Regions from separate parts of the Homo sapiens genome. Here all the other regions are linked to region 2. The links come from fine-mapping of genetic effects on gene expression. A gene starts in region 2. Each other region holds a variant in brackets. All regions are shown on one strand. Distances are between the middles of the regions.

Region 1 (10,152 bases), 63 kb before region 2:
TCCGATTCTTTTTCTCCAGGACACAGGAGACCCACACTCCATTCTACTCCAAATACCTGGCAGCGCTGGCCTGCAGGGTTAAGGAGCTGGATAGGAGGGGACCGTCCTCACCACCATCCCTCTGGTCTGCCCCTCACAAGGTCAGGCTATAAGCCTTCTCTGACCTTTCCAACACAGTGCACAGAGCCTGGGGGTCGCTGGTGTCCCCAAAAGCTGGAGCATATCCCCGCCACCCTCTAGTCTATCTGTGTTTGGGATGTCAGGGGCCAGAGCTGTCCTGGCTCCTGAAAGTCCCTCTCCTCACCGCCTTGGGGCCCGTGTGTCTGGCTGCTCAGGTTGCAGCCCTTAGCTGACCCCTAGCACAGCGCAGGTGTTGCCCCCATCCTCATTTGCTTGTACAATTTTTTGTTGAGATGAGGGTCTCAATATGTTGCCCAGGCTGGACTCAAACTCCTGGGCTCAAGCGATCCTTGTGCCTCAGACTCCTGATACTGGGGACTATAGGCATATGCCACTATACCTGGCTTCCTTTTACAGATTTGAAAATACGTGTAACTGCAAAAATAATATATAGGCATCATAAAAACTTAAAAAAAAACACACATATACAGATGAGCAAAAGGAAGAAAATCTCAGCTGTGACACACCCCCCACCACTTGTTCAACTTGTCGCCTGTGGTGACAGGCAGTGGTGTGCCTCCCGCCACTGCCTGCATGCCCCCAAGCCTCCCATCACTACCTGCACCCCCCCACACACCCCGTGTGCTTCCTGCCAGCTGTGTTCTTCCCTGCTTCTGTGAGTCCATGTTGGGTGAGGGCAGGGGGAATAGCCTACGCCCCTTAACACATGGTTTTTGTACCTACCAGCAAGGGTCATGTTTCTGGGATCTGGTGGCTGAATCTAGCTGAAAGTTACAGAGTGGGTCTGTCACCAGCTTGGGACGCTGTCACCAACCTGAGAAAAGGGGAGGACAGGATTTTACCATCGATGGATTAGACAGGTTATTCTCATAAGAAAGGTCTTTATACACTGGGGAGGGAATCTCAGGGGTACCTCATTTGCTCTTCCTCCAGGCCCTCTCCCCACCAACTCTCCCTGGGGGTCCCCTACCCCGACCTCCCTCCCACAATGATGCTAAACAAGCTCAGATTCCATGAACTAATGATACTTCATAATTGGCTTTCCAGTCTCAAGCCCCCTAGCACATGCAAGCGTGGGTTTCCCAAAAACGTATGGATCAAGGGGTGCTCATCTGTCTCCCTCCATAGCTCAAGAACCTGGCCCAATTCAAGGGTTAGGGTGAGAAGCAAATCCTCCTGCAGAATCAGCTGGGAGGCATTCATAAAATAACTGTGTGTCCTGGACTTCTCCCCGCACATGCCCCAGAAGTCTTTGGGCCAATTCTGATATGGGAAGAGAGGGAATTGGACATAGGATGTTAACAGGCCTCTTCAGATGCCTCTCACCTTCCCTTTCCCAAGACGACTGACCTAAGCTGTGTTTGACCCTATTTAAGACAATCCGGGACACAGGAAAGAAAAACATTAAGGAATCATGTCGTCATCACAGGGCCAGCCAGCACACCACCAGAAATCAGCGTGAGGAATTGCTGTGGGACACAGAGATAGGGCTCCACACCACCAGAAATCAGCATGAGGAATTGCTGTGGGACACAGAAATAGGGCTCCACACCCCCAGCATTTGCCAGGGAGCCTGGGAGGTGTCCCTGGTGTCGGTAGCACCTGAGCAGTGCCTTGAAGGATGAGTTAGAATCAGACAGGAGCTGGCAGGAGGGCATTGTGCAAGGGAACATCACGGCCAAGGGTCGGGGTGAGAACGCCACTCAGTGTCCGTGGGATCAGGTCAAGCTAGTTGACGCTAGATCAGAAAGTGGAAAGAGGAGGGGGCGGGGCAGGAGACAAAACAGGAGAGTCAGGGAAGGAGCAGATCTGGGAGGATCAGAGGGGTGGAGGTGATGGGAGCCCATGAAGGCTACTACAAAGAGAGTGAGGAGCAGCCAGCAGTGAGTGGCCATCCTCAGGACCATTTGATCCTCGGTCACCCTCTGTGGTCACTGTGCCAGGGGAGGGTGGCGAGAGCCAGCAGGCTCACTGCCTACATCCTTGCCAGCCAAAGAGACTCTGAGACCCACTTCAAACCCCTTGCCTTTCTGTGCTGGCTGGAGACTGGCAGGAGGAGGTAATGGGGCAGTGAACTCAGCTCTGGCTTTAGGGCTAGACCAGTGTGGGGTCAAATACAAGTATCACCTCTCTTACCAGCTCTCGCTAGTCTCTTTCTCCATCTTAATCCTGCACAGAGCTGTACAAATTAAATGAGAAAAACCCATGCATAGCATCCAGCAGACAGGAAGCACTGAATAAATGTTAGTCTCTTTGCCCTGTCTTTTGCATCAGGACAGCTATCAGGTGCCACATGCCTGCTTCAGAGCCATTACCTCTGGACCCACAAGTAAGGACTGTTGTTGCCATGTGCGGATGGGGAAACTGAGGCTCAGAGGGTTTATGTGCCTGCTCAGGGCAATGCAGCTAGCAAGTTAGAGTGCCCATTTGAACCGAGGTCCAGCTGGACTTAAACTGCTTTGTTCTCCTTGTTCTTGTTGTTGTGCTTTGGAGCCAGAGGCCCCTGTCATTGCAGCACAATGGGTCTTCTCTCTGCAGAACTAAGCTGGTCCTGACGGCACCAGTGAGTCCCTGAACAGAGAGGCAGGCCTGGTGCCTGCATGCGACTTCCCTGGTCATGACACCCCATCCCGCAGTCTCTGCTCATGGCCAGGCTGACTGACAAGTCACTGGCAGAGTTAGTAAGCCCTTGCCAGAGTGGCAGTGGCCTTGGACTTCTACCTGGGGAAAGGATCAGAAGTGGAAGCCTGAATAGGTGGAGGGGAGGCAGAGAGGGATGCCTGAGAAAGAAGGCAGATGGAGTAGGAGCAGGCAGTTGGAGTTATGGAATGTGCCTCCAGCCCGAGCTAGAAATGATGATAGGACCCTGTGCTCAGGGGGCACTCGACACCCACCACATTATCCTAGTCTAACTTTGCATGAAGCTGGCTTAGGCTGACAAGACAGGCATCATCAGCTTTGCTTTCAGATGAAGAACCTGGGGTTTGGAGAAGTTCAGACGCTTGCTTAAGGTCACACAGCTCTAAGGGTGCAGAGCTGGGTCTAGTCTCCAGGTCTCTCGACTTGTAAGCTCTTCCATTGTAACCAGTGGAAGAACTAGATACTCACTAATGCTTTCTCTATGGTCCTGAGGACTCACAGAAAGCCAGCCTGGCCTGGGGATATGAGTTAACTTTAAAATATGTGGTAAGTGCTTTCTACATGGAAGGAAATGGGCTAGGAGTTTTAGGAACACAGAGAAGGTCAGAAAGCCAGAAAAGGAAAACCAGGGCAAGAAACGAGATGTTGTAGAGGTGGGCAGAGGTATGCATGGTCATGATCAAGGGATTTGCAATGGAGACCTCTCAGTGTTAAAAATGTGTGCTTACTGAGCAGCTGCTATGTGACAAACTCACTTTAATTTTCGTAATAGCCTCGTAAGGCAGGAATTACTATCCCCATTTTATAGAGAATGAAATCGAGGCTCAGGGAAGCTAAGTGCCTTTTCAAGGCCATTCAGTACAGTAGGTTAAATAATGTCCCCTACATGCATACATGCTCATCCTAACTCCTACAACCTGTGAATATGAGCTTATTTGGAAAGAAGGGCTTAATGAAGGATCTCAAGAAGAGACATTCCTGCTTGCCTGAGAAAGCCTTAAACCCAATGGCAAGTGTCCTTATAAGAGAGACTGAGAGAAAAGGCCATGTGCAGACGGAGGCAGAGATGGGAGTAAGGCAGCCACAAGCCAAGGAACCTTTGGGGCCGCCAGAACCTGCAAGAGACAAGGACAGATCCTCCCCTGGAGTCTTCAGCAGAGTTCAGTCCACTGACATCTCAGCTTTGAACTTCCAGCCTCCCGGTTAGTGGTAAAGTGATGCAGTAGCCCCGGGGAAACTAATGTCCTCAGGAAGTGACAAAGCCAGGGCTCAAACCCATGGTTTTTTTCACCTCAGGTACCAGCATTCATACATGGGCTGATTTATTCCTCAAAATGATCTATGTGGCCAGGCGTGGTGCCTCATGCTGTAATCCCAGCACTTTGGGAGGCTGAGGTGGGCAGATCACTTTGAGGTCAGGAGTTTGAGACCAGCCTGGCCAACATGGTGAAACCCCATCTCTACTAAAAATACAAAAATTAGCCCGGCATGGTGGCGCATGCCTGTAATCTCAGCTACTAGGGAAGCTGAGGTAGGAGAATCACTTGAGCCTGGCAGGCGAAGGTTGCAGTGAGCCGAGATC[G/A]CGCCACTGAACTCCAGCCTGGGTGAGAGAGTGAGACTTTGTCTCAAAAAAAAAAAAAAAAAAAGATGATCTATTTACTTGTGCCTGTGGGTCCATAGGGCCCTTATAAATCCTCATGCCAACAGTCACATCATTTCTTTTGCACTCAAGACCCAAAAGATATGCCCAGGGGACATTCTGAGAAAGGACACAGAAGATAAAAAGGTGGGAAGCAGAGGGCACAGAGATGAAAGGAGTCTTTGCCACTGGGTGGCGCCAGCCATGGCAGGAAACCCAACTTTATCCCTAATAACCTGTGGCATCTGCGCCCAGTGGGGCCAGTCACATGTCCCTCCCCAGCACCTGGCCTGGTTGTGTGATGCTAGGTTGTCTTGTGGGGTTTGTTAAATGGCCATGGTCATGTTATCATGCCACAGCAATATACAGCCTGCAAGGGAGCGAGGGCCACCAAACCTCTCCTGGAACTGTCAAAGAAGGACAGTAAAGGTGTTATGCCCAAGGTCAGAGCACACAGAGTGCCAGGGATTCAGGTGGCATGATGAAGATGAAGAGACAATAGAGGCCATAGGAAGCATGAGGCAAGGAGTGCAAATCCTCAATGGGAGATTCTATCCAAGACGTCAGCCAGCAGAGCAATGGAAGGCAAAACCCAGTGCAGAAGCAAACCTCCATCCCCATCCCTCAGAGGTTCCTTATGTGTTTTCTGTTAGGTGAGAGCCAATCCTAGCCCTTCTATTGCCCCTAAGGAAGACCAGGAAATTCATTGCATCCAGCAGCAACAAAGATCAAAGGAGCCCCAGACAGAAGGTCAATGTGGCAGTCATTCAGCCAATATCCAGAACCAGAGCTAGAGCTCAGGATGGCAGGCCCTCCAGCTCCTGCCTGGTGGTCACTGTCAAGCACTTCTGATGGACACAAACTGGTTGGTCAAGAGCCAAGGCCTCCCTGGGCAGCTGAGCCCCTGTGCTGGCAGGGATTGATCCAGTGGAGCAGGTAGAGAGAGGACTCTATTTATTTATTTATTTATTTATTTAGTATATAATTCTGTGCCAAGCCCTCTGCTAGATCTTCAGATGGCAAAGATTCGAGTGTGGCCTCATCCCAGACTGTGATGAGGTTACTATGCAATTGAGGTTCTGCAGTGCCTATCACCTTGCAATGACTGTGAACCTGACTGTGTGCCAGGGATGTGGACTGGGTTTACTCAGGAACACAGGAGGCCCACTGGGCTGCATGCAGGGTGCAGTGGGACAGAATGCTAGAATAGGAACTGGAAAATTGCAGAGACCTCTGGACCAGTGAAGGACTTTGTGCTTTATCTCCCACCCAGTAGGAAGCCACTGACATCTTTTGAATGAGGGGAGAAGAGAACAGTGATGCTGATAATAATAGCAATAATAACAACTACCATTCTTGGGCAGGAAAAGCACGGCTGTTATCTCATTTTTCTATTAGGTTCTTTGAGAATGAGGACATTGAATCTCAGCAGTTAAGTAAGTTATACCGTCGTCACACAGGTAGGTAGGGGCAGAGCTGGGATTTGAGTCCTCATGTGTTTCATTGGAAAGCCTCTCTGTCTTTAGGTTCTGCTGCGAGTGTAAAAAGATTCATCTGGCAACATTCGTTTGGGGAAAAATTAGGAGGGATAGGCTGGAAGCCAAATAGCAGTCTGGGTACAAAGTGTGGGTTGGACCTGCTGGATTGAGTTCCACTCTGAAGTTTTCACATCTCACCCAGCACTATTTTTCCATTTACAAACTGATCCATACATTTCCCCCAGCACCAGCATCTAAGAGTCTGTACAGAAAAGCAAGGAACCAGAGCTTTTTGTTGATGGCTTGAACCATTAGCATAATTGTTAAGAAATAAATTAGTGGGTGATAACCCCCCCCAAGCACAGAGCCAGCCGTAAGGAAACACAGAATGAGTAAGTTTTGATTGGAGGCAGACGTGGCTGAGAGTGAAGTTGTAGGCTGTTGACTGAGGAGGGATCTCACGGTGGGACAGTGGGGAGAAAAAGGTGGTTAAAGTGAAGAGATCAGAGCCCTCGATTTCACCCAGAACATTTGAATGTCAGAGATGGAGAGAACAGGCAATCACAAGCCCATGGTTCTCGACTCAGTGCAGTCTCACTCCCGGGAACTACATGGGACTTTTCAATGGTCATGAAACTGAGGATGCTACAGGCATTTAGTGGGCAGAGGCTGGCGAGTCTAAATGTCTTGCATTGTATACATCAGTCCCACACGATAAACAACTGTCCCTTCCAAAATGCCAATAGCCTCCTACTTGGGGACCAAAGATTCTGAGGTCACGCAGAGAACTCCTGGCAGAGATTGGATGGATTCCAGTGTCAATGCCCTTCTCCTTTATACTTGCTCCTTCTCTGTCCCCAAACACCATCCTGGATGAGAGGGGACAGCCCACATGGTCACCAGAGCAGCTCTGAATGAGAAGATGGATACACAGAAGGGAGACCCCAGCAGGGCACTTTCATGCAACCCACACTTCCAGGCTTTCCGTAATTCAGCTGATGTCCAGGGGGCAAACAGAAAAGCACCAAGTTCTCAGATGACACGTGGCCACCTACTGGGTGTATGCCTGACCTCTTAGTGCCTCTGACTGCCCATACGACAGAATGAACAAGCATTTTATTGGTCACTGTAAGAAATGCCCCAAGAATGCTTGCAGGATGTGTCAAATTCCATCTGGACTATTTTTGAGGGATGAGCAGATAATGCATGTCCCAGTGGCTTGAACAGAGTTGTACCTGGCAAGGGTTTCGGAAGACAAATCTAGAAACTCTGGCCAAGAATCAGGATGAATACCTCATGGTTGTGGGGGCAATGAATTCTGCCTGAGGTCCTCTAACCACAAGCAGTACAGGAAGGTGGTTCTTTAAGTCTGTGCCCTATTGCCAATCTTCTTCAAAATCCAGTTGAGGTCATATATTTACCCAAAATTAGCTGCATAAGCTATCTAAATGCCACATTTATTTGCTTTGGGATGAATCATGTCAGCTCAGAACAGTGGCCCTGGTTATTTCATGCTGATCAAAAGGCTCTGATTGGCAGCCATGTGTCTTCTTTGGGTTTAAAATCAAAAGGAGATAAATTATTTTTTCATAAATGTGGTTTTCATTCTTTCTACAATATTTACTGAGTATTTAATTATGTGCCAAGCCCTCTGCTAGATCCTAAAATAACCACAGGAGTTTTTGTTGGTGGAAAAGTAAAACAGGTCCCTGGATGGGTATCTAGAGCCATTGGAGCCTTTGGAGGCTCTGCAGATGCTCTGCGGGCCTCAGCATGGTCTTCCGCGATAATGTGGACCATGCCATAAAGGGAGAAGGAGTGGGAATTAGAGTGCAGACCAAGAAGGAACCAGCGAGACCTACAGAGGGAAACTGGGCAAAACAGAACAGTGTGTGATTCACTGGGTCTGGGGAAACTGGCATTGTTTAATCACCTCTTAGGCTCTTGCTTCCAACAGCATCTAGAGGAAGAGATGATGGGGACCTGGACAAGGGCAACTCCCAGAGGGTACCCAACAGGCTTAGGCTTCTAGGAAATAAGCACCTATGACAAAAGCAGAACTCTGAAGGCCTGAATCTGAGGAGTCCTTCTTAGCACTAACAGCTATGTTAAGAGGCAAGTCAGAGAAGGAAAATTAAACTGGAAAAGTGACAGCCCCAAATAATCCACAATGATGGGATTTTCTGGGCAATTTTTATTTCCAATTTAATATATGCAGAAGCGGCTGAGTGCGATGGCTCATGCCTGTAATCCCAACACTTTGGGAGGCTGAGGCAGGCAAATCATGAGGTCAGGAGTTCGAGACCAGCCTGGCCAACATGGTGAAACCCCATCTCTACTAAAAATACAAAAATTAGCCCAGCGTGGTGGTGCATGCCTGTAGTCTCAGTCCCAGCTACTCGGGAGGCTGTGGCAGGAGAATCACTTGAACACAGGAAGTGGAGGTTGCAGTGAGCTGAGATCATGCCACTGCACTTCAGCCTGGGTGAAAGAGTGAGACTTCATCTCAAAAAATAAATATATATATATACACGTATATACGTATATATATATACATATAATATTATATATATACGTATATACGTGTATATATATTATATATATACATATGCAGAAGAATCAGCATCACAGAAGTCAAGTTCAGGGGCATGGACTTCCATTCTGGGCTGCTGGAGAGTGTGCAAGGCATGTGACCCAGGAGTTCTGTGAGGTCCTGGGTTAAAAGCACATGAAGCCATCAATATACAGGGCAAGCCCTTTTAATCTTACTCCCAATAACAACAATGTGATTGAATATTGCTTTATGATTACATCTATAGGCATATGTGCATCTTATAAATAATGCTTTAATTACAAACATATTCACATTATATTTTGGAAATTCTATGTAACAGAAAAAAAGAAAATAAATCCTTGTAGTCTTGCTACTTTATGCTATTGGCATTTTCTTCTAGGTTTTTTCCCCTCTGTCTACTATTTTTACATAAGCCAGAAACCAGGGCTTTTACAAAAGCAAGGGAATCTACATTTAAAAAAAATTTCTTTTTTGCCATCTTTTTTTTTCTTTTTTTTTTTATTATTATACTTTAAGTTTTAGGGTACGTGTGCACATTGTGCAGGTTAGTTACATATGTATACATGTGCCATGCTGGTGTGCTGCACCCACTAACTCGTCATCTAGCATTAGGTATATCTCCCAATGCTATCCCTCCCCCCTTCCCCCATTCCACAACAGTCCCCAGAGTGTGATATTCCCCTTCCTGTGTCCATGTGATCTCGTTGTTCAATTCCCACCTATGAGTGAGAATATGCAGTGTTTGGTTTTTTGTCCTTGTGATAGTTTACTGAGAATGATGATTTCCAATTTCATCCATGTCCCTACAAAGGACACGAACTCATCATTTTTTATGGCTGCATAGTATTCCATGGTGTATATGTGCCACATTTTCTTAATCCAGTCTATCATTGTTGGACATTTGGGTTGGTTCCAAGTCTTTGCTATCGTGAATAATGCCGCAATAAACATACGTGTCCATGTGTCTTTATAGCAGCATGATTTATAGTCCTTTGGGTATATACCCAGTAATGGGATGGCTGGGTCAAATGGTATTTCCAGTTATAGATCCCTGAGGAATCGCCACAAAGGGCTAATATCCAGAATCTACAATGAACTCAAACAAATTTACAAGAAAAAAACAAACAACCCCATCAAAAAAAATTTTTTAAGGTAGAGATGGGGTCTCACTGTGTTGCCCAGGTTAGCCTCAAGCTCCTGTGCTTAAGTGATCCTTTGGCCTCAGTCTCCCAAAGTGCTAGAATGACAGGCATGAGCCACCGTGCCTGGCCAGGGCATACATATTTTATCATTTTATTCTGCACACCAAATCTTATACACACTTAATAGATCATCAATTTAGGTAAGTGACTTGATTTGCCCAAAGTCATACAAGTAGAAAGTGGTAAACATGGGATTTGAATTGAAATCTTCTTATATCAAAGCCCATGCAATTTCTGATAAAGCTCCATGTTATGTCCTCATATCCAAGACTACCCTAGATGTAAATGCAATGGATGATTGCTGATGGCATGTGATTGAAGGGCAGGCAAATACCCCATATCAGCCTCCCTTCTATGGGTGCATTCCATGCTTAAAATTCTCACCATTATATCTATCCTTCAGCTCAGGCATTGCCTCAGAGAGTCCCTGTTAAAATGCACACAACTGACCTATCAAGTGTACTAAATTAACTCATT
Region 2 (10,152 bases):
CACACCCGGCTAATTTTTTTCTTCTTTGGTGCAGGATCTTGAACTACTGGCCTCAAGCAATCCTCCTGCCTCAGCCTCCCCAAGCACTGGGATTACAGGCATGAAACACACTGGCCTTGATCCACTTCTCATTACTTAGATGTAACCACCTCCTCACAAGATGTAACCATTCCATCACAATAGAATGACGCACGGTCTGTGTCTGAGGATGTTTTCATTTAATGGCAACCTAAACCAAACCTAAGACAATCCTACTCCAAGCCACGACATAAACAGCGCTGACACATGCTTTCAGTTCACAACTTCATCATCAGCATTCGTATTTTCTTTTTTTCTTTCTTTTTTTTTTTTTTGAGACAGTGTCTTGCTCTGTCGTACAGGCTGGAGGGCAGTGGCACGATCTCGGCTCACTGCAACCTCCATCTCCCGGGTTTAAGCGATTCTCCTGCCTCAGCCTCCCAAGTAGCTGGGACTACAGGTACCTGCCACCATGCCTGGTTAATTTTTGCATTTTTAGTAGAGATGGGGTTTCACCATACTGGCCAGGCTGGTCTCGAACTCCTGACCTCGTGATCTGCCTGCCTCGGCCTCCCAAAGTGCTGGGATTACAGGCATGAGCCACCACACCCGGCCACCATTCATATTTTCTTAACAGCTTACTTGATATCAAGACATGACTTTCATCGTCTTGTCCTGATAAGGAAAGAAGAGAAATACACATAGCAGGTAAAGAATGTGCCGGACCCAAATGAAGGCCAATCCCGTAACAAGAAAGCTCCAGAGCTCTTCAGAGAAATTTGGGCGGATTAAGTAGTCACTTGGAACAGAGTAATGGGAGAATCAGAAGTATCTTGGCCAGGAGTAGAGATTTTGTTCCAGCAAAATAAAACTTTAGAATTAATATTTTAAGTGGAATGTTATTGATTATAGTTTTGTATTCAGTCTGTTCACTTCCTTTTGTTTTATTGCTTATATGTAGCATGAGCAAGTGCTATTTATACCAGGTTTGCATTTGTATGCATGTAAATAATAACATAATTTAACTCTCACTGGCTAGACTATTTTTTCCTTTAAGAAGAATGCATACTTGTTCAAGTTTGAGAAACGCCAGACTAGGATTTCTGAAGGTCCTTCCAAGCACTGTTCCTTGCTACAGCTCTGCTGTAAACATGATGCCAGGCTCCCAAATCTCATCAGTCCTTCCATCATGCGCCACTGCACCTACGATAAAAATCCCAGCTCCTAAGCAGGGCCCTCTGTGTCCTGTGGGATCTGTCCTGCAGTTCCTCATCCCCACGTGAACCATCTCTCAGTCACTGCACACCCCCACGCTGTGCCCCGCCGCCACACCCCCGCCACACACACACACTGCTCGCCGCCCCTCAATCAGCTCCTCTCAGCGAAATCACTTCCTTGGAGACTCCTTCCCACACCCCACCAAACAAGAGCAGCCTCCCCCTTACAATCTCCCACCACATCCTGTACTGTCCTTCACAGGAATGTTGAGCTGAAACTATGTAATTATTAGTGAGATGATACAACCATGCCCACAAAGGCAAGGTCTAGGACTGTCCGGTCCTGTCCTGGACACAGTACTGGCACACAACCAGTACCTTCTGCCAGCCCTGACAATGGTCAACAGCCACTCCAACCCCTAACACACAGTCAGCTGCCCGCTGAAGTCTGAGATGAGAGAAACCTCTCTCAAAGTCCAGGACCAGTGTGTGAACTGAACAAGGCTCCAGGTGATCTTTAGAGCTACTTGCTCTGTGACTTTGGACAAGTTTCTTACCCTCTCTATGATTCTATAATTGTCTATAAAATGGGGATAATAGCACCTAACTGTAGCAAGCTGAATAATTATTTCCCCGAAAAGATGTCCCCATTCTAATCCCCAGAATCTTGTATGGCAAAAGGGACTGTGCAGATGATTAAATTAAGGATCTTGCTGTGGGGAGGTTATCCTGGATTACCTGGGTGGGCCCAATGTCATCACAGGGTCCTTATGAGAGGGAGGTAGTAGAACTGGTCAAAGAAGTCAAAGTGACAACAGATGCAGAACGGAATGACACACTTCAGAGCTGGAAGAAGGGGCCTCTGCAAGCTGGAGAAGGCAAGGAAATAAATTCTCCCTGGAGCCTCCAAAAGGAATGTAGCCCTGCAGACACCTCGATTTTAGGACTTCCAACCTCCAGAACCATAAGAGAACAAACTTGTGCTATTTTAAACCACCACATTTATTACGCAGTAACAGGAAACACAGGACCTGAAAATACGTTTTTGTGAGCATTAAATTTGTTGACGTGTGAACACTGAAAAGCATCTAGCACACAGTGAGCACTGAAATGTGTTAGCTGGGATGATTTTGACTTTGCTGTTCCTCACATAGATAGTTGGCAAAGTAATCTTTCTCTAAAACACACATCCCATCACAAACTCCCCTGTTTAGAATCTTTCAGAGCTCCCCACAGCACAAAACGGAAAACCCCCTCAGTGAGGCACACAGCTTCTTACCCAGTCCCTTCTTACCAAGTGGTGGAGGGAATCTTCCCATACCGCTCCCCCACAACCACCTACCTTGAATCACACAGAACTACATCTTGTCTATTGACTGTCTATGCCCCCTGCTCAAATGAGAATTCCATGAAGCTAAGAAGAGGCCACAGCACACAACAGCCATCAGTACCCATTTGTCTAGTAAATGAGTGATTTGCACCCTGCATCAGGCTGACCACACCTGGCTCTCATTCTTCTCAGATCCATTTGGGACTAGACTACTCAGCCCCTGACATCATCCTGAGTGTCCACTGACTTGACACCATCATTCTTCTGCTAAAACCCCCAGCTGCTGTTCACAGCAAGGGTGAGCCACCGGCCTCCTGGATCCTCCTGCACGTCCCTCCTCATTCTAACTACCCTTAAATTCCCTCAGTGCCTAGAAAGTCAGGCTTTCCCACTTCTGGACCCTTCCAAATGCTGCTGCCTCTATCTGAAATACCCTCTTTCACCTGGCTAACACCTCCTCTTCCCTCGGGTCTCTGCTGGAAGCTCCTTGAGGCTGGAAATGGTCTATCTTGTCTCCTGCAGTATCCCTGGGACCTTGCAGTACCAGGCATCTGCTGGTGCATGGCTCTCTGCTCTTGAATCCTGGCTTGGCCCCAGCCTGGGGGCTCTGCCTGGGTGTTCTCAGCCCTGACCCCAGCATCTCCTGATCAGCACCTCGGCCAGCCAAATAGGCATCAGTCATGACCTGAACCATGATCCCTCCTTTACCTGGGCCCCAGACCCCTGGCTGGCCAGCACTTATTCCAGCTGTCCCAAATCAGGATCTGTCACTTCTGCCAGTGGAAACAGGAAAAGCATTGACATGGACCCATGTTAAACAAAAAAGATGACAGGAGTAACAGGGTTACTCATTGAGACATGCGTACTGACAGCATCCTTACATTCCCCTTCAATTAAACTTTGTCAAATGCATTTGGAGCGGAACAGACTTCCGTATTTAAAAAGGTATTGCAAAAAAAGAAGGCAGGGCCACAGAGGGGGCCAGAAACCAGGCACAGGGGACTCGGGCAGCTCCTCCTCTCCAGTCCATGCAGCTTCGGGCCAGCTACCCAGTGTTCTCCCAATTGGGGCTCTGACTCATGCATTAGCAGGTGATGAAATAAATTCAATGTTTCACATTCTGGGTAATTTTTAAAAGTAACAGAGGCCAGGCGGAGTGGCTCACGCCTGTAATCCCAGTAGTTTGGGAGGCAGAGGAGGGCAGATCACTTGAGGCCAGGAGTTCCAGACCAGCCTGGCCAACATGGTGAAACCCTGCCTCTACTAGAAATTAAAAAAAAAAAAAAATTAGCCAGGCGTGTTGGTACATGCCTGTAATCTCAGCTACTCGGGAGGCTGAGGCACCAGAATCGCTTGAACCCAGGAGGCGGAGGTTGCAGTGAGCTAAGAGCACGCCACTGCACTCTAACCTGGGCGATAGAGGTCTCAAAAAAAAAAAAAAACAAAGGGAAGTAACAGAAAATATCAGAGTGCCATGGACATGTTCAGAAAACTTTTGTTTCAACTGATACATATGTTCTGGGTCACAAGGGAAAATGCATTGCTTCCTATGGGCTAAGATTAAACGTTTTGGAAAATGCTGAGTTAGGCTAACCCTTATCTTCTATTCATTTTTCCTTCCTATATCAAAGAATTCTCCATGTTAGTTTTGCCCTGTAAGTTGCTCCTGGGTTTATGTATAGTCACTAGAACTCTAGATATGGAGATGCTGCTTTATAAACCAGAATAGGCCAGCCAGCCAGGGTCAGAGACCTCTCACTCAGATAATACAAACCGCGGGATCAGCTTGGCAAGTAGGTGACTGGTTTGGGGGAAATCTTAAGACTCCACACCCCTGGCCAGGTCTGTGGCTCCTCCTCCACTTCTAAATTGAGTGTGCCAAGCTACAGGGCTCGTGGGCTGCACCCACATCCGTGCCGCTTAAAGGGACCTGGGCCACACCCGGCTGGCACAAGGGGTGCATGGCCTGGGCCCTTCAGAAGCAAGTGTCGCTGTCTTGGGAACATCATGTAACCTCATCTGTCACTTTCCGTTCGCATTCTCTTCTCCCAGCACGGGCCCCTGGGCCGACCTTGAAGAAGCAGCCAGCCCTGAGAACCTGGGTCGGAGAGGTGGGGTCCTGCATGCTGGGAGCGAGACGCGGGCACACTGGGCTCTGGCAGGCAGGAGGGGCGGGAGCCGCAGAGCCAAGGGATTCCGGGTTCCAGACCCGGCTCGGCCGCCTCGTGCAAATCGCTGCTCTTACCCGAAAGTCGTGGGCAGTGTCCTTCACCGGCTGCACGCGGTGCCCCTGGTGTCGGGGGTCGGCCTGGCAGGAGCAGCACAGCAGCTCCTTGTCCTCGAGGCAGAAGAGGCTGAGCTGTCCGCGGTGCAGGCGGCAGACACGCGAGAAGCGGTAGCTGGTCCAGCGCGCGCCCTCGGCCTCCTCGCGCAGCAGCTTCTCCACCAGGTTGTTGAGGGTGTGGTTGGTGCGCAGGTCGGCGGGTGACGCGCGGTCTTTGCACACTGGGCAGGTGGGCGACACCTGCACCTCCCAGCAGCGGCTCACGCACCCGCGGCAGAAGTTGTGGCCGCAGCGCAGAGTGACTGCGTCGCGGAAGGGGTCGTAGCAGACGGCGCAGAGCAACTCCTCCTTGAAGGAGCGGGAAGGCCCGGGGGACACGTCGGGACTCCGCTCCATGGCACGAGCAGCCGGCTCGGGCGCCCGGAACTTTTGCTCCGGCCCCTCCCACCCGCCCGGCTGCCAACGCCCGCGACCCGAGTGCTGGGAATCGCCCAGTCCCTTCCCCTGGAACGCTGAGAGACAGCGGCGCTGGCCAATCGTGCGGGGGGGATGGCGAGGGGGAGGGAGGGGGCGCTCGGAGGAGCCCCACCCACTTCCGGTGTGCGCGGGAAATCTTGGGAGAGCGGGGTGGGCCTTCTGCCCGCAGTTCCCGCCTCCTCAGGTCCGGGCGGGTCCCTGGCCGGGGTAGCACGGAAGGGTCTCCCAGGCGGCGTAGTAGGGCTTCCGTGTTACTGGAAACCTACTTCCGGCTGCAAATGGGAAAAGGAGCCTCTACCTTAACCAATCCCCGGGAACCTCAGGCCCGCGGATGGGAGAAACCAGAGATGCCAACTTCCTGCTTCCGAAGTAGTGGCTGGGTCTTAAAGCACCGTGAGTGCAATCACCACTTAAGTTTGCAGCGCCTTTTTGAGGACCTATGCCACTCTTGCATTAGTCGTTTACTTATTTTGGCCAGTCTTCTTCTGGCCCGCCGCGGTAAGGAGAAACAAGAGAGGGGTGGCGGCAGAAGAGCTCCGAGAAAACCTGATTCTTGTCCTGTGGTTGAAAAAGTGAACAGGTCATCATGTTTCAAAGTCCATTTACTCATGAGTACAATGGCTGTAATAGCTCTGTTTCCATGAAGTGTGAGGATAAAGTGAAATAAATGTGGAAAGTGCTCATGACAACCACTGTTTTAATGGGCAAGTGCCCATTAAAACAGTGAAATTGAGGACTTCTGCAAAGTTTAGCTGAGATAACTAGAGTTCATGCTCAATTCTTGCCAGGTACAGTAGGCCTGGATGGTTCCTTCAGATCTTCATTCCTGCTTCAGTTTGATCACTTTACAGCCTCCAGATGCAGAATACTTTTCACACGATGCACTTTCATTCCTTTTCTATTGGGAGACAATTCACATGTGTCATGTTCCTGCATGTCTTGAGAGAGCAGAGGCACTGACTGCCTTTTTCCAACTATCTTTTCAAGGATGTTTCTGCATTGAATAGCCCTGGAAGACAGAATTCTTGTCTCTCCAAAGATCTGGCAGACTTATTCCCAATTATAAGAGATGTGAGTTTCCTAAACTTGGGGCCCCTCTCCTGTAATGCAACCTACTGTAGCCTTCATCACATAGTCTTGCAAGAATTAGGGCTCAGAAACTGGCCCAATGACAATACTGTGACTACTATTATTGCTGTTAGTATTATCCTTTGTCTCTGACCCAGGAGTTTCATCTTTTAGCAGTATTCATGAAATTTTGGCATGCAAACTTGTTAGTGTTGAAACTCAGAAAACAATACCCCAAAATGGCCTCAAAAGCAGAAATTTTTCTCTGCCCTCCTATCTCTCAGTCCCCCAAGGATAGCCATAGAAATTAGAATTCCTTTTCCCCAAGGCAGGTCATAGAAACCAGAACCCCTTTTTCCTAAAGCCAGTCTTGAAACCTTAAAATATTACTCTTTCTCTCTGCCTTTCTGTGGAATAACTGGCCATAAAGAAATTATCTGACCTACCTTGTTTGACTGTAGGCCATAAGAGCCCGATTCCAGAGAGGGTCCTACCCCATACCTGTTAGGGGTAGAAGGTGTCTGAGTTAACAGCAGTGAATCTGTATGGGTCTGCAGCAACCTCAATTCTTGCCTCCTTGGAAGAAAGAATTAGACTGAGGGGCATGATATGGTTTGGCTGTGTCCCCACCCCAAATCTCATCTTGAATTGTAATCCCCATAATTCCCACGTGTCAAGGGAGAGACCAGGTGGAGGTAATTGAATCACAGGGGTGGTTTTCCCCCCATGCTGTTCTCCTGATAGTGAGTGAGTTCTCACGAGATCTGATGGTTTTATAAGTGTTTGGTAATTCCTCCTGTGTTCATTCTCCTTCCTGCAGCCTTGCAAAGGAGGTGTCTTGCTTCACCTTCACCTTCCACTGTGATTGTAAGTTTTCTGAGGCCTCGCCAGCCATGCGGAACTGTGAGTCAATTAAACCTCTTTCCTTTATAAATTACCCAGTCAGTCTAAGGCAGTTCTTTATAGCAATGTGAAAATGGACTAATACAGGGCATAAGGCAGAAAAAGCAACTGAGGCAAGTTTCAGAGCAAGAGTGGAAGTTTATTAAAAAGTTTGGGACAGAAAAGAAAGTACACTTGGAAGAGACCCAAGCGGGCAACTTGAGGGACAAGTGTGGCATTTAACCCTGATCCTGGGACTTCATATGCTGGCCCACTTCTGGAGTCTTGCTGCCCTCTCCCTTCATTCTTCCCTCAGTGTGAGCTGCCCGAATGCACAGTGCCCTCCCTATGCTTGGGAGGTGAGCATGCACCATGTGCTTAGGAATTTGTACACATGCCCATCTGAGGCTTTCTTCCCTTTTCCAGTGGAATGCCCCCGGAAGGTCATACTCCACTATTTTGTCTCTTAATGTGCATGCCCAAGCTCACTCACCCAATTTCTGAAATTTTATTGGAAGCTGATTACCAATCTCAAGTGTTTTTATCTGTTTGGGAAATTGCCTATGCCTGGCACCTGCTTTAATATCAATTAACATCAAGTAACACTTTAGTGACAGCTGTGGACCATCAGGGAATTGTCTCTCTCCCTCTCTCTGGCCCATCTGCCAAATTATCCATTTTAGAAAGGCAGTGTGATAACTGTGAAACCATCACCTGGCATTCTTGCTTGAGGGGATTGGGGAGGGTAGAGTCCTCTCCTGCCCTGCTCATGCCTGTCTAACTACCTGTAACATACCTGGAAGGAAGAAATGCATGTTCGTAGAGGCCAAGAAAAATCTAGACAGACAGGCCTAGGTTCCCCACTCAGTTTATTAACATTAGCTCATACCCTTTTGTTCAATCATATTTCTACACAGCTACTCATACTTTGCTGAACCTAAGCATGAAAATGAGCCATTTCCAGTCTATCTTTAGGTCTTCATTCTGAAGGCTCCCATGTCACATAAAACTATGATCAGGCCAGGCATGGCGGATCGGGCCAGGTGCCAGTGGTGGCTCACACCTGTAACCCCAGCACTTTGGGAGGTCGAAGAAGGCCTTGAGCTCACAAGTTCAAAACCAGCCTGGGCAACATAGCAAAACCCCGTCTCTACAAAAAATACAACGGGCGCGTGTGGTGGTGTGCGCCTATAGCCTGAGGCAGGAAAATAGGGTCTGGAGGCAGGGAACATAAGGCCAATTCACACTTCAGCTGCGACAGCAAATATCCTCCCCATAGGGCGTAGGCCAAGTAAATAACTTTGTAACTTTACTTCATCCTCTCCATTTACATAGGGCGTACCCCAGGTAACCAATGGAGTCCTCCAGAGGGTATTTAAACCCCCAAAAGTTCTGTAATGGGGCCTTTGAGCCCCTATCTCAGGCCGGTTCCCACACTGTGGAGTTTACTTTCATTTTCCATAAAACCCTTCATGCCTTCCCTGCTTAGTTTGTGCGTTTTTTCCAATTCTTTGTTCAAGATGCCAATAACCTGGACACCCTCCACCATTAACAGTCCCAGCTACTCTGGAGGCTGAGGTGGGAGAATCGCTTGAATCCGGGAGGTGGCAGTGAGTCGAGATTGTGCCAGTGCACTCCAGCCCAGGTGACAGAGCCAGACCCTGTCTCAAAAAAATAAATAAACTTCTATCCCTTTCCTCTTCTTAACCTTTTTGTCAGTGATTTGCAGTGAAACTTCAAGGGGCAAAGGAGACGTTTTCCCTTGGCCCACACATTAGCTTGCAAGTAGGGTAAAATCTCAGACCTTTAAAGTTCTTAATAATTTCTTTCCACACTTTTCCTCAGCATAGTCCTTTCCTCACAATGACAAGGGATGAATACCACTAACTCTAATTGCCTTCAGTGTTTCTTAAATGTGGTTCATGGTTCTCCTGCAATTACCTGGGGAGTTTTCTAAAAGCAGTTTCCTGGGCCCACTTTAATCTACTCATCTCTCTTGTGGAAAGTGAGGCCCAGGAATCTTCATTTTCACTTGCATGCTAGGTGATTCTGAGGTGCAAGAAAGTTTGAAAGCAATTATCCTAGATCTATTCACCCAACAAGTTGTTGGGTCTCCAGCTATGGTTGGTTAGTGGTTCAAAAATTAACCTTAGAGGCAATATCCAAAAAAGCCACAAGATGGGGCTAACAACGCTACACTCCAGATAGCCCTCTCCCCTCCCCCCAACGCAGAGACTCTTACGTCGTCTCATTCTCTTTCACTGTGTTCTCTTATCTCTGTGTCCCAGTTGTGTTGTGAATCGATATGTGTTGCTGTCTATGTGTTTCATTCTGTTCTTACCTGATCTTCCTTATTTTGTTGGGTCTTTTTTTTTTCTCATATTCTGAATGGGGCCACAAATCAAAAACAAGAAGGAAGAGTAGAAATTGTATCTTTTAAACTACAATACAAAGGTTAACATTAAACCAATAAGGCTCTTCAATCATTCTGGAAATCCAGAAAGGACTTAGTTCTAGTCCAAGCTCTACCACTACCCAGGGGCAGGACCTGGGGCATATTATTTCACTTTTCTAACTTGCTTTTCCTCCACTATAAAAGAAAAGATGGAACTAATTGCTCCAAGTTCTGACCAACTTAGATGCTCTGAAATTGTTTTATTCTTTGCATATGGTGGGGGGGTGGGTAAGGGTGACTAAGACTTAGCCAGAGACCAGGAAAGAGAAATCTTGGTGACTAGAACCAATCTGTCACCAATTTATATTTCTCCTTTCAATACAAAGGACCTTATTCAGAGGTCCTTATTGATGTTCAAGTCCTATGTATACTAGCTAATCTTCTGCAAGAGCTTACTCAAAAGTTCTCATAATCTCTAATT
Region 3 (10,152 bases), 49 kb before region 2:
AGGGGTGAAAGTACAGCTCCTAGCAGCAAAGCGGAGGGTTGGGGTGAGCCAGAGACTAGGGCAGCATTGCTGGGAGACTCTGGCTTCCTTCTGTGGAGCTGCAGATCAGACCTTTTCCCCTCTGCCTTCTCACTGCTCCAGCACTATGATTATTTCCTCATCTGAAGGATGATCTCATTCCCCTAGCACCCGCCTGTGGGAGAGGTTTCCTCCCCCTGGGAGGCGGGGGCTCAGCCTCAGGTGGAGACAGATTCCCTCATATTCCCTCTCAACCTCCCACCCATCCCTCGAGCCTCAGCAGGCCACCTCTGGCCATCCCACCTTGTATTCTCTTGGTCTTAAGACAGGGGGTATCCCTTCCCAGGGCATTCAGATAAGGGTGCCTGAACATTCCTGACCTCTCCCTCCGACCCCCATACAAACACACACACACACACACACACACACACACACACACACACACAGCATTCTGGAGACCTGCTCATGTTCAGGACAACAAGACTCCACCACACCTGATTGTGTCTTCCTGGGAGAAATAAAACAAAGACAGCACCGCCACGTGGGGACAGCTGACTGCTGGACATCAAAACCCTGGGTCCCAGGATGAGAAATGAATGATGCCTAAACTCCTGGCAAGTGTGGTGGGCTGAATAAGGAGGGGGACTGGCCAGGGCCCCAGTCAAGGACCAGGGCGTGGCAGTTCTGGGTGTCTGCAGTTTTCAGCTTTGGAGCCAGCCACCTCTGGCCAGGTAGGATTAGGCTGACCTCAGGGTGGGGCGGGGCCAAGAGGAGGTGATGATCTCATTGCATCCTTAGAACCAAGAGAAAAAAGTAACCCGTGCATAGAGCCGAAGGAAAAGATGTGTGATCAAAATGGGAATGGGAGACAAGAAAAGCTGTGTCTGAGGAAGAAAAGGTAAAAACACAGGAGAGCTTCCCACTTGAAAGGGATCTTCAGGTCACAGCCAGCTGCAGGGGCAGCCAGACTCAGCACAAAACCTTTCTCCTTAAGCAACAAAACATTTTTATGCAGAAATAGCTCACCATAGCATCTGACAATTCCCACCCATCCTGCCTCTCCTGAGCTCTGGAATAAAAGTGGCACCCGGAGCCCACCCTCACCCCTTGGCCGAGCGCCATTCTTTCTGCCTCACCCCCTTTCCCCCAAGATCTGACAAAGTTTAAATGATTGAGTAGAACCAAAGGTGACACAATAGGTGCTAGGCCCCTCGCTTCTCCCCACTGTAGCTGCTGTCTTGTTTTTTCTTTTGCCTGAAAAGCCTCAAATTAGTTGCATTTTATTTCTACTTACGTGCAGTCCAGTTAGAAGCGAGCTGCTCTCTTCCTCACTCCCTCAATTAGTGGTACCCTGGGCTTCTCTCAACATCAGCACCACTGCTCGCTCTTGCCATGACATCACCTCCAAGCTCTGTGATTGGCCAGCAGTGGGTTGCTTGGCAATTGGACAGTCTCCTCTGGTGGAGCAGGGATTGCCTGAGTGAGTAACTCTTAGCAGGCCAGGGAGTGAAAGATGATGTCAGACAAAGAGCCTGCTTTCTCTGCTGCCTGTGGAGCTGGAGAACCAGAGGGGTGAGGGCGGAGAGGAAGAAAGAAAGAGGGAGTGGTACAGAGAAGGTTGGGGAGAAGCCACAGCTTGCGAGCTGGGGGTATAATGAATGATTTCCAGGATCTTTAGGTCCTTTAAATTTGGGGGTGAGAGAATATGGAATCCAGAGAAGAAATAAAAAAGAACAGATGAACCCTAAAAATAGCTTCCTGGAGGGCTTGGTGCCTGTTTCCAGCTCTGTCAGAAGGGCTGGTGGGTTTGAACGATGACTCAGAAGGCGGGGGGTTGCGGGGACTGCAAAAACCCCAGGATTGGGAGCTGATGAGGGCCCTGCACTGGAGTCTCTGGAGAATAAGGCTTCCCTCTGGCCACCTTTGCAAAGGTATCAGCCACATCTCTGCTGACACTAGTGGGTCCTCACTGCCCCTCCCATCCAGCCCTCCTGGGCCTTCCAGAGGGAGCCACAGGTAGGAAGATGGACTGGTCATTACACTGGTGATTCCCAAATATGGTGGATTTTTTAAAATTTTCAGTAAGTTTTTGGGAAACAGGTGGTGTTTGGTTACATGAATAAGTTCTTTAGTGGTGATTTCTGAGATTTTGGTGCACCATCACCCGAGCAGTGTACGCTGTCCCCAGTGAGTAGTCTTTTATCCCTCACTCTCCTCCCACTCTTTCCCCCAAGTCTCCTAAGTCCCTTGTATCATTCTTATGCCTTCGCGCCCTCCTAGCTTAGCTCCCACTTATGAGTGAGAACATATGATGTTTGGTTTTCCATTCCTGAGTTACTTCACTTAGAATAATGGTCTCCAATTCCACCCAGGTTGCTGCAAATGCCATTATTTCATTGCTTTTTATGGCTGAGTAGTATTCCACGGTGTGTGTGTGTGTGTGTGTGTGTGTGTGTGTGTGTGTGTGTATTACATTTTCTTTATCCACTTGTTAATTGGTGGGCATTTGGGCTGGTTCTATATTTTTGCAATTGCGAATCATGCTGCTATAAGCATGCATGTGCAAGTATCTTTTTTGTACAATAACTTCTTTTTCTCTGGGTAGATACCCAGGAGTAGGATTGGTGGATCAAATGGTAGATTTACTTTTAGTTCTTTAAAAATTTTTCACACTGTTTTCCATAGTGACTGTACTAGTTTACATTTCCATATGGTGGAATCTTGAGGGGGGGTGACGGGTCAGCGATGGTGGCTTCTGTAGTTCCCTCAGGGAATGAGGGAGCCACTAACATAACCTTCACAGGCTGCTGCCCTCAGCCAGTGAGCTGGAGAGGGCAGGGTGAGGCAGGAGAGGAGCCAGGCAGCTGTGGAGCGAGACCCCCTCCTCCAGAACACCTCTCCAGATTAAATCCCCCCAAGATGTGTCCATCATCCCCACATTCCACCGTCCAGCCTTGCCTCATGTGTTCTTCTTGGTGGGGAGGGGTAATTTTTTTTCTTTTTTTTTTGAGACAGAGTCTCGCTCTGTCACCCAGGGTGGAGTGCAATGGCGTGATCTCGGCTCACTGCAACCTCCACCTCCCGAATTCAAGAGATTCTCCCGCCTCAGCCTCCTGAGTCACTGGAACTACAGGCACGCACCACCACACCTGGCTAATTTTTGTATTTTTAGTAGAGATGGGGTTTCACCATATTGGTCAGTCTGGACTTGAACTCCTGACCTCGTGATCTGCCTGCCTCAGCCTCCCAAAGTGCTGGGATTATAGGCATGAGCCACCACGCCCAGCCGGGGAGGGGTAATTTTATTGAGGCTGAACATGTCCAACATAACGCTCACCATTTTCACTATTTTGAAGTGTATAGCTCACTGGCCTCAAGTGCACACGCATTGCTGTGTAGCCATCACAGCTTTCCATCTCCAGAACTTTGGCATGTTCCCCAATATTCATATGTAACCAGTAAGCAATAACACTCCTTTCCAGCTAACCCCAAACTACTTTCTGTCTCTATGAATTTGCCTATTCTAGGCACCTCGTATCAGTGAAATCAAATAGTATTGTCCTTTTGTATCTGGCTTCATTCTCTTGGCATGTCTTCAAGGAGCATCCATGTTGTAGCATGTGTGATAATTCCATCACCTTGCTCCTCCCTCCTTTTTTTTTTTTTTTTTTTTTTACAAAGTCTTGCTTTGTCATTGAGGCTGGAGTGCAGTGATGTGATCATGGCTTACTGCAACCTCTGCCTCCCAGACTCAAGTGATACTCCCACCTCAGCCTCCCCAGTAGCTGGGACTACAGGCATGTGCCACCACACCCAGCTAATTTTTTATAGAATCAGGTTTTCACCATGTTGCCCAGGCTGGTCTCAAACTCCTGGGCTCCCACCTGCCTTGGCCTCCCAAAGTGCTGGGATTATAGGCATGAACCACCACGCCTGGCACCTCACCCTATTTTAGGAGGGTTTGTTCACCCTCTACCACCAAACCCCTATTGACTGAGAACACGAATAATGACAAAAGTTGCCTTGAATTCAGCCCATGCTTTGAAGTTATTATTTTTAAACTACAGTAGCATCAATGAGCATTTGAAAATCATAGTTAATGCATGGATGTCACATGTTCACCCTGCAGACTGTGCTGGGGATTAAGTAGATTCTCAAGCCCTGGCATGAACCCCTGACCTGCACCCCACTGCCAGGACCTGCAAGCTGGCATCTCACCACAGCACCCCGTGTGGTTCTCCAGGAGGCCCCATGTAGACACACATCTCCAAGCCCCCACTTCACATCCAGAGGGGAGGGCTCCAGTTAGGCTGCCAGCCCCTGGCCAAGCGGTGGCCAGGATGAGGAATGAGCCCTGACAGCCTTTGGGGTTTTCAAAGCACACCAGAGCTGAATCTATGGTGTAATCCTTTCAGCAGGGCTGCAAGGACGGCAGGACGAACACTGTGCTGTTTGACATTCAGTGAGTATCACTGAACAACACACTTATCATTCATGCCACATGCCACCAACCCAGGACCCTCAGCCATCAAGCTGAGCCTTTTCAGTGGGAATCAGGACAACTAAGGATATCAGAAAGTCATTCCCTCAACATGTGGAGACAGGAGAGGCCACACTGCATACCAGGCTGGAATTTGGAGTCCAAGCAAACCCCAAATGCATGGCTATCCTAGCTGTGAAGGGGGCCTCTCTGTCCTCCCCTAGTATCTTCCCTCCCAGCCCTGAGAAGTCTGGAACTCCACAAATCTGCTGGCTCTGGAAAGTGAGGGATGGGGAGAGAAGGCAGTAGGTTGCCATGGTGATGGCAGCCAATCAGAGATCCTCTGCTGCTAGGGGAGGAGCAAGTTCGGTCTGAGTCCCCCTCACTGACTGTGAAGGAGGGTGGAGCTGGAACAGGGGGAGAAAGAGACAGGACATCACTGCCTGACAGCAGAGACCAAGGTCGGGGAGAAGGGTCATGGGGA[G/A]GGTGGCTCTATTTCTAGGATTACCTAGTTTCCATTTGGTACTAGGTTGTGATGGTTACACACACACACACACACACACACTCAGTACATCTCACAACTGCCCTGTGAGAAAGGGATTACCCACCCCATTTATAAAAGAAACAGACTCCAATAGGAAAGGTAACCTCAAACAGCCTACCTGTTATGCAGCGAGGCCTGGATTTGAACTCTGGGGAACGGGATGCGGGAGACACTGGCGAGAGAGTGAGTAAGGTAAGCAGGGTAGAGCCACGGCCCCAAAGACCTACTGGGTGGGAGAGTCCCTGGGACTTCCCTGAGATGGCATAAAGCAATATGTTGATAAAACAAGAAACACAGAAATGGTAAGAAAATGTACCAAACACCAAGTCCATAGAACAAAGGGCGAGGAGAGACCAAAATCAGAAAAGAAATCAGCAAGGTCAAAACTAGGAGGCTCAGAAGGACAGGATGGCGATCAGGGAGCAGGTGGAGGGGAAGGCGAGGTGGGCGCTCTGTTCCTCACACCGCAATATGGAAAGCCCCTGTGAGCCTTGTTGAGAAATGTGGGCTGGCCCTGGACCTGCCAAGTCAACTTTGGGTTAGACCTGTTGCTTGTGATCAATCTACCCAAATGCTGGACTTTAGCCAAAGGGGCATGGGGCCCACAACGCCCCTCTGCAGACACCACCTCTCACAGCCCAAGTTGCACTACAGCAACAATACTAGGATGGAGTGTGTGTGGCCATTCCCTGAATCCCCACGCATTGCCTGGCTGCACCATGCGGACCCGATTCCTATATCTCTGCCCAGGAATCCCAGGGCAGCCACTGCTTGGTGACTTGACTCACCATATAATAACTCACACTCACAGCCTCTCAGGCACAAAGGAAGGGGCCCCTGCCCTTCTCAGAGGTAGTTCTATCATAGGACCAGCTGGGAAGTCACCCTGGGGACCCTCATGGAGCCTGGGATCTCTTCCCAACCCTCAGAAAAAGTGGACCTAGTCTCACATGGGAATTCAGAATATCTAATCCATACATGCATGTCTCTTCCACTCACACCAATGTGGTTTGTAAAAACTATAGAACATCAATGGGAATTTATCAATGGGAAATTGCAGTTTGTGGGATTTTCTTCTGTAGAATTTGTTGAATTGAACATTATCAGTTATTGACTTGAAACAAGTAAAAACATGTTTGCACTATGTCATTTTAAAAATGTGAACTCTTATTTCACCTGAAGAGTGGCTGTCCTGACTCACATGCTCTGGAGTCACTAGTGGCTTAGATTTTCCTTCAACAAATTAAAACACAAATCAATTCAATCGATTTGAATCCAAGCAAAGCTGGATTGCTAGAGCTGTTTGTTTATGTCCCTGATTAGATTTGTTAACTAAATTGTAATGGTGGTTAATATTTATAACCACAACATATGATGTTTATAAAAGCAATATTTATCAAGTGAGCTAAAACCTGTAAATCACTTAGAACATTGCCTGGCACAAAGTATGGGCTCAGTAAATGTTAGCTATTATTATGATGTCATTAAATACAAGAGCAGACTGTGAATGAGTCTTAGGTTTGCAAGTAACAGAAGCACATTCCAAGATTGTTTATTTAAAAAAAAAAAAGACAATTTATATTAAAATCTAAGAGTAAAACAAATTTTAAATACTCACTAGGCTCTCACCTATAATCCAAGCACTTTGGGAGGCCAAAGGGGGAGGACTGCTGAGCCCAGGAGTTCAAGACCAGCCTGGGCAACATAGCAAGGACCCCATCTCAACAACAACAAAAATATTTAACAAAAAAAAAATTTAAAAAAATTTGGTTCACAAAAACAAACAAACAAACAAAACCCATTCAATCCAATTAGAAAAGGGACAAAAGATATGAAGAGATGTTTCACCAATGAGGATATACAGATAGCAAACATATGCATGACAAAATATTCAACATTAGTATGATAAGGCAAGTGCAATTTAAGACCATGATGAGGCCTTAGTACACACCTGTGAAAAAAGCTAAACTAAAAAACAGTAGGCCAGGCGCAGTGAACTCACACCTGTAATCCCAGCACTTTGGGAGGTCAAGGTGGGCTGGATCACTTGAGGTCAGGAGTATGAGACCAGCCTGGCCAACATGGCAAAACCCCATCTCTACTAAAAATAAAAAAGTAACCAGGTGTGGTGGCACGTGCCTATAACCTCAGCTAATTGGGAGGCTGAGGCAGGAGAATCGCTTGAAACTAGGAGTCAGAGGTTGCAGTGAGCCAACATTATGCCACTGCACTCCAGCCTGAGAGACAGACAAGACTCAGTCTCAAAGAAAACAAAAAACAAAAAACAAACAAACAAACAAAAAAACAGTAGGCCAAGTGTGGTGGTTCACACCTGTCATCCTGTCATCCCAGCACTTTGGGAGGCCTAGGCAGGCGGATCATTTGATCTCAGGAGTTCAAGACCAGCCTGGGCAACATAGTGAGACCCCTGTCTCTATTCATTAAAAGAAAAAACAATAATGACAATACCGAATGCTGGTGAGAATGCACAGAAACTAGATAGCTCCTGCATTGCTGGTGGCAATGGAAAATGGTACAACCATTCTGGAAAGTCATTTGGGGGTTTCTTAACTAAACATATACTTGCCAGATCACCAAGCAATTGCATTCCTGGGCGTGATTCCAAGAGAAATGAAAATGTATTCACACAAAAATCTTGTACACAAATATTCATCACAGTTTTATTCATAATAACCCCAAACTGGAAACAACCAACATGTCCCTCAATAGGCGAATGGATAAACAAACTGTGGTTCATCCGTACCATGGAATGCTATTTGGTAATAAAAAAGGATGAACTGCTGATACACACAGCAACTTGAGTGGATCTCAAGGGAATCACGCTGAGAAAAAAAAAGCCAGTCTCAAAAGGTCACAAAGTGTATGATTCCATTGATAGAATATTCACAAAAGGACAAGACTATAGAGATGGAGAACAGACTGGTAGTTGCCAGGAGCTAGGAGTGGTGGAAAGAAGGAAGGATCACTCTAAAAGGGGTGGCAAGAAGAAAACCTTTGTGGGATGGAACAGTTGTGTGTCTTGATTGTGGTGGTAGTTACACCAGTCTACACATGGGATAAAATGACATAGAACTATAGACACACATTGCACCCATTTCCTGGTTTGATATAGTACCACAGTTATGTAAAGTGTAACCACGGGAGGAACTGAGTAGAGGGTAGGTGGGACCTCTCTATTATACTATCTTTGCAACTTCCAAATCTGTAATTATTTCAAAATAAACAGTTACTAGAAAAGGGGAGAAAAGAGGAGTTGGGAATTCTTTATTTAACCCAAAACGGAGGATTCCTCCCAAAAAAGAAGAGTCAGGAAAGCAATCACAAGTCAGTTCTTTCTCTCTCCCTCTTTTGTTCTCTCTCCCTCTTTCTCTCTCCCTCCCTTTCCTTCTTTCTCACCCTCTTTCTCCCTCTCCCTTTCTCTTTCCCTCTTTCTTTCTCTCTCTCCCTCTTTCTCTCTTGCTCTTTCTCTTTCTCTCCCTCTTTCTCTCTCCCTCTTTCTTTCTTTCTCTCTCTCCCTCTTTCTCTTTCTCTCCCTCTCTCTCTCTCCCTCTTTCTCTCTCCCTCTTTCTCTTTCTCTCTCTCCCTCTTTCTCTTTCTCTCCCTCTTTCTCTCTCTCCCTCTTTCTCTCTCCCTTTCTCTCTCTCTCTTTCTCTCTCCCTTTCTCTCTCCCTTTTTCTCTCTCCCTCTCTTTCTCTCTCTCCCTCTTTCTCTCTTCCTCTCTTTCTCTCTCCCTCTTTCTCTCTCCCTCTCTTTCTCTCTCTGCCTATCTCTCCCCTCTTTCTCTCTCTCCCTCTTTCTCTCTCCCTTTCTCTCTCTCCCTCTTTCTCTCTCTCCCTCTTTCTCTCTCCCTCTCTTTCTCTCTCTCCCTCTTTCTTTCTCTCTCTCCGTTTCTCTCTCTCCCTCTTTCTCTCTCCCTCTTTCTCTCTTTCCCTCTCTCTCTCTCCCTCTTTCTCTCTCTCCCTCTTTCTCTCTCTCCCTCTTTCTCTCTCTCTCCATTTCTTTCTCTTTCTCCTTCTCTCTCTCTCCCTCTTTATTTCTCTGTGTCTCTCTCCTCTCTCTGCAAAGCTGCGTCATTCATCTTTGCAGACCACCTTCTGTGCTGCTCATGCATGTGGCTGCCTCACAGCCATGAAGGATGCCAGTGCTTTTTGGTGGTGCTAGTGTTCGTTGTAGTTGGGCCACACAGAGAAACCCATTAGCCCTCTCTTAGATTCAGTTTAAAGCTCTCAGGAAAACAAAATCCACTAACCCTGCCTGAGCCTGGAGTCCATGCCTCTTCCCATGGCAGTGGGGTCGCACAGTACAGATGTAACTGCCTCCGGGAATATGGACGCTTCCTCCTTTCTACACAGAGGTGAGGTCCTGATCCCAGGAAATGCCCCTTTCTCCTCCAGATCAGTCCCAGATGGATGGGTCTATAAAGCAAATGACAAAAACCCACCATCTATAGTCCACCTGATAGAGAACACTGGGAGAAAGGCTGGCCAGTAGCCATAAAGCTTTCCCACTTAAACACAAAGAAGGAAGGACCCTCAAGACAGAAGCCCCTGGGCAGGCTACTGGTGTTGAAACCACCTTTCCAAAAATTACACACTGAGAAAATGATGGCAGTGGGAGAGATCTGATCTAGCCAAACCCCATCTTGCCTTTGGCCTTCAAGCTGCCCTTAATTATTTCTGGGTTTAGGACAAGCTAACTTTAGGAGAGATTTAATTTATAGTTTAAATAATAATCAATAAATAATAAATAAAGTTTAATAATAGCCCTTCCCCAAAGCTTTAGCCTTTGTAAAGTTAATGAGAGATTGCCAGGCTAGGAGGAGGAGAGGAGGCTGAATTCGGCTAAGGTGCAGACATAAACAACTGCCAGCCATTATTTTGGAGGTCACACGATATGCAATGTCCCCAGTCACTCCTGCAAGTAACATCACTATTGAAGAACCTAAGATTGGCCATTTGAGATATCTCTTCAGGTTTTTTGCATGTTTGATGACCAGTGGCTCCATCTGGGCCCTCCAACTGCTCCTGTGGCCCCACCCAGAAGCAACTCAGTGTGCAGGAGGAACACTTCCCATGCCCCATGATTGTGC

Direction of the effects. Positions count from the first base shown, and alleles are read on the strand shown. Sizes are in standard deviations (SD) of each study's normalised expression.
For the expression in substantia nigra of the gene that starts at base 5,282 in region 2, A is the low allele of the variant in region 1 and G is the other (moderate effect, 0.72 SD a copy in GTEx).
In carriers of allele G in region 3, the expression in putamen of the gene that starts at base 5,282 in region 2 tends to be higher than with A alone (small effect, 0.35 SD a copy in GTEx).

Evidence for each region. PIP is the estimated chance that this variant, and not a neighbour inherited with it, causes the effect. A credible set is the group of variants that fine-mapping cannot tell apart.
Region 1: its variant is the best candidate, but not a certain one, in a credible set for the expression of TRIM35 in substantia nigra (GTEx, PIP 0.82).
Region 3: its variant is the best candidate, but not a certain one, in a credible set for the expression of TRIM35 in putamen (GTEx, PIP 0.89).

Annotation. Positions count from the first base shown.
Region 1 is chr8:27,242,847-27,252,998 of GRCh38, forward strand. STMN4 (stathmin 4) reads right to left here. Exons shown (of 7, transcript NM_030795.4): 2 at 865-955. The coding sequence starts at 877. Among named protein-coding and RNA genes, the nearest start is that of STMN4, 10 kb to the right of the region's middle. RefSeq lists an enhancer at 1-261. The variant G/A (reference allele first, on the strand shown) is at 4,364.
Region 2 is chr8:27,305,991-27,316,142 of GRCh38, forward strand. TRIM35 (tripartite motif containing 35) reads right to left here and starts at 5,282. Exons shown (of 6, transcript NM_171982.5): 1 at 4,811-5,282. The coding sequence starts at 5,245. It also overlaps a transcript of PTK2B not described here. RefSeq lists enhancers at 4,251-4,360, 4,761-4,980, 4,991-5,140 and a silencer at 5,291-5,500.
Region 3 is chr8:27,257,039-27,267,190 of GRCh38, forward strand. STMN4 (stathmin 4) reads right to left here and starts at 1,366. Exons shown (of 7, transcript NM_030795.4): 1 at 1,313-1,366. The variant G/A (reference allele first, on the strand shown) is at 4,983.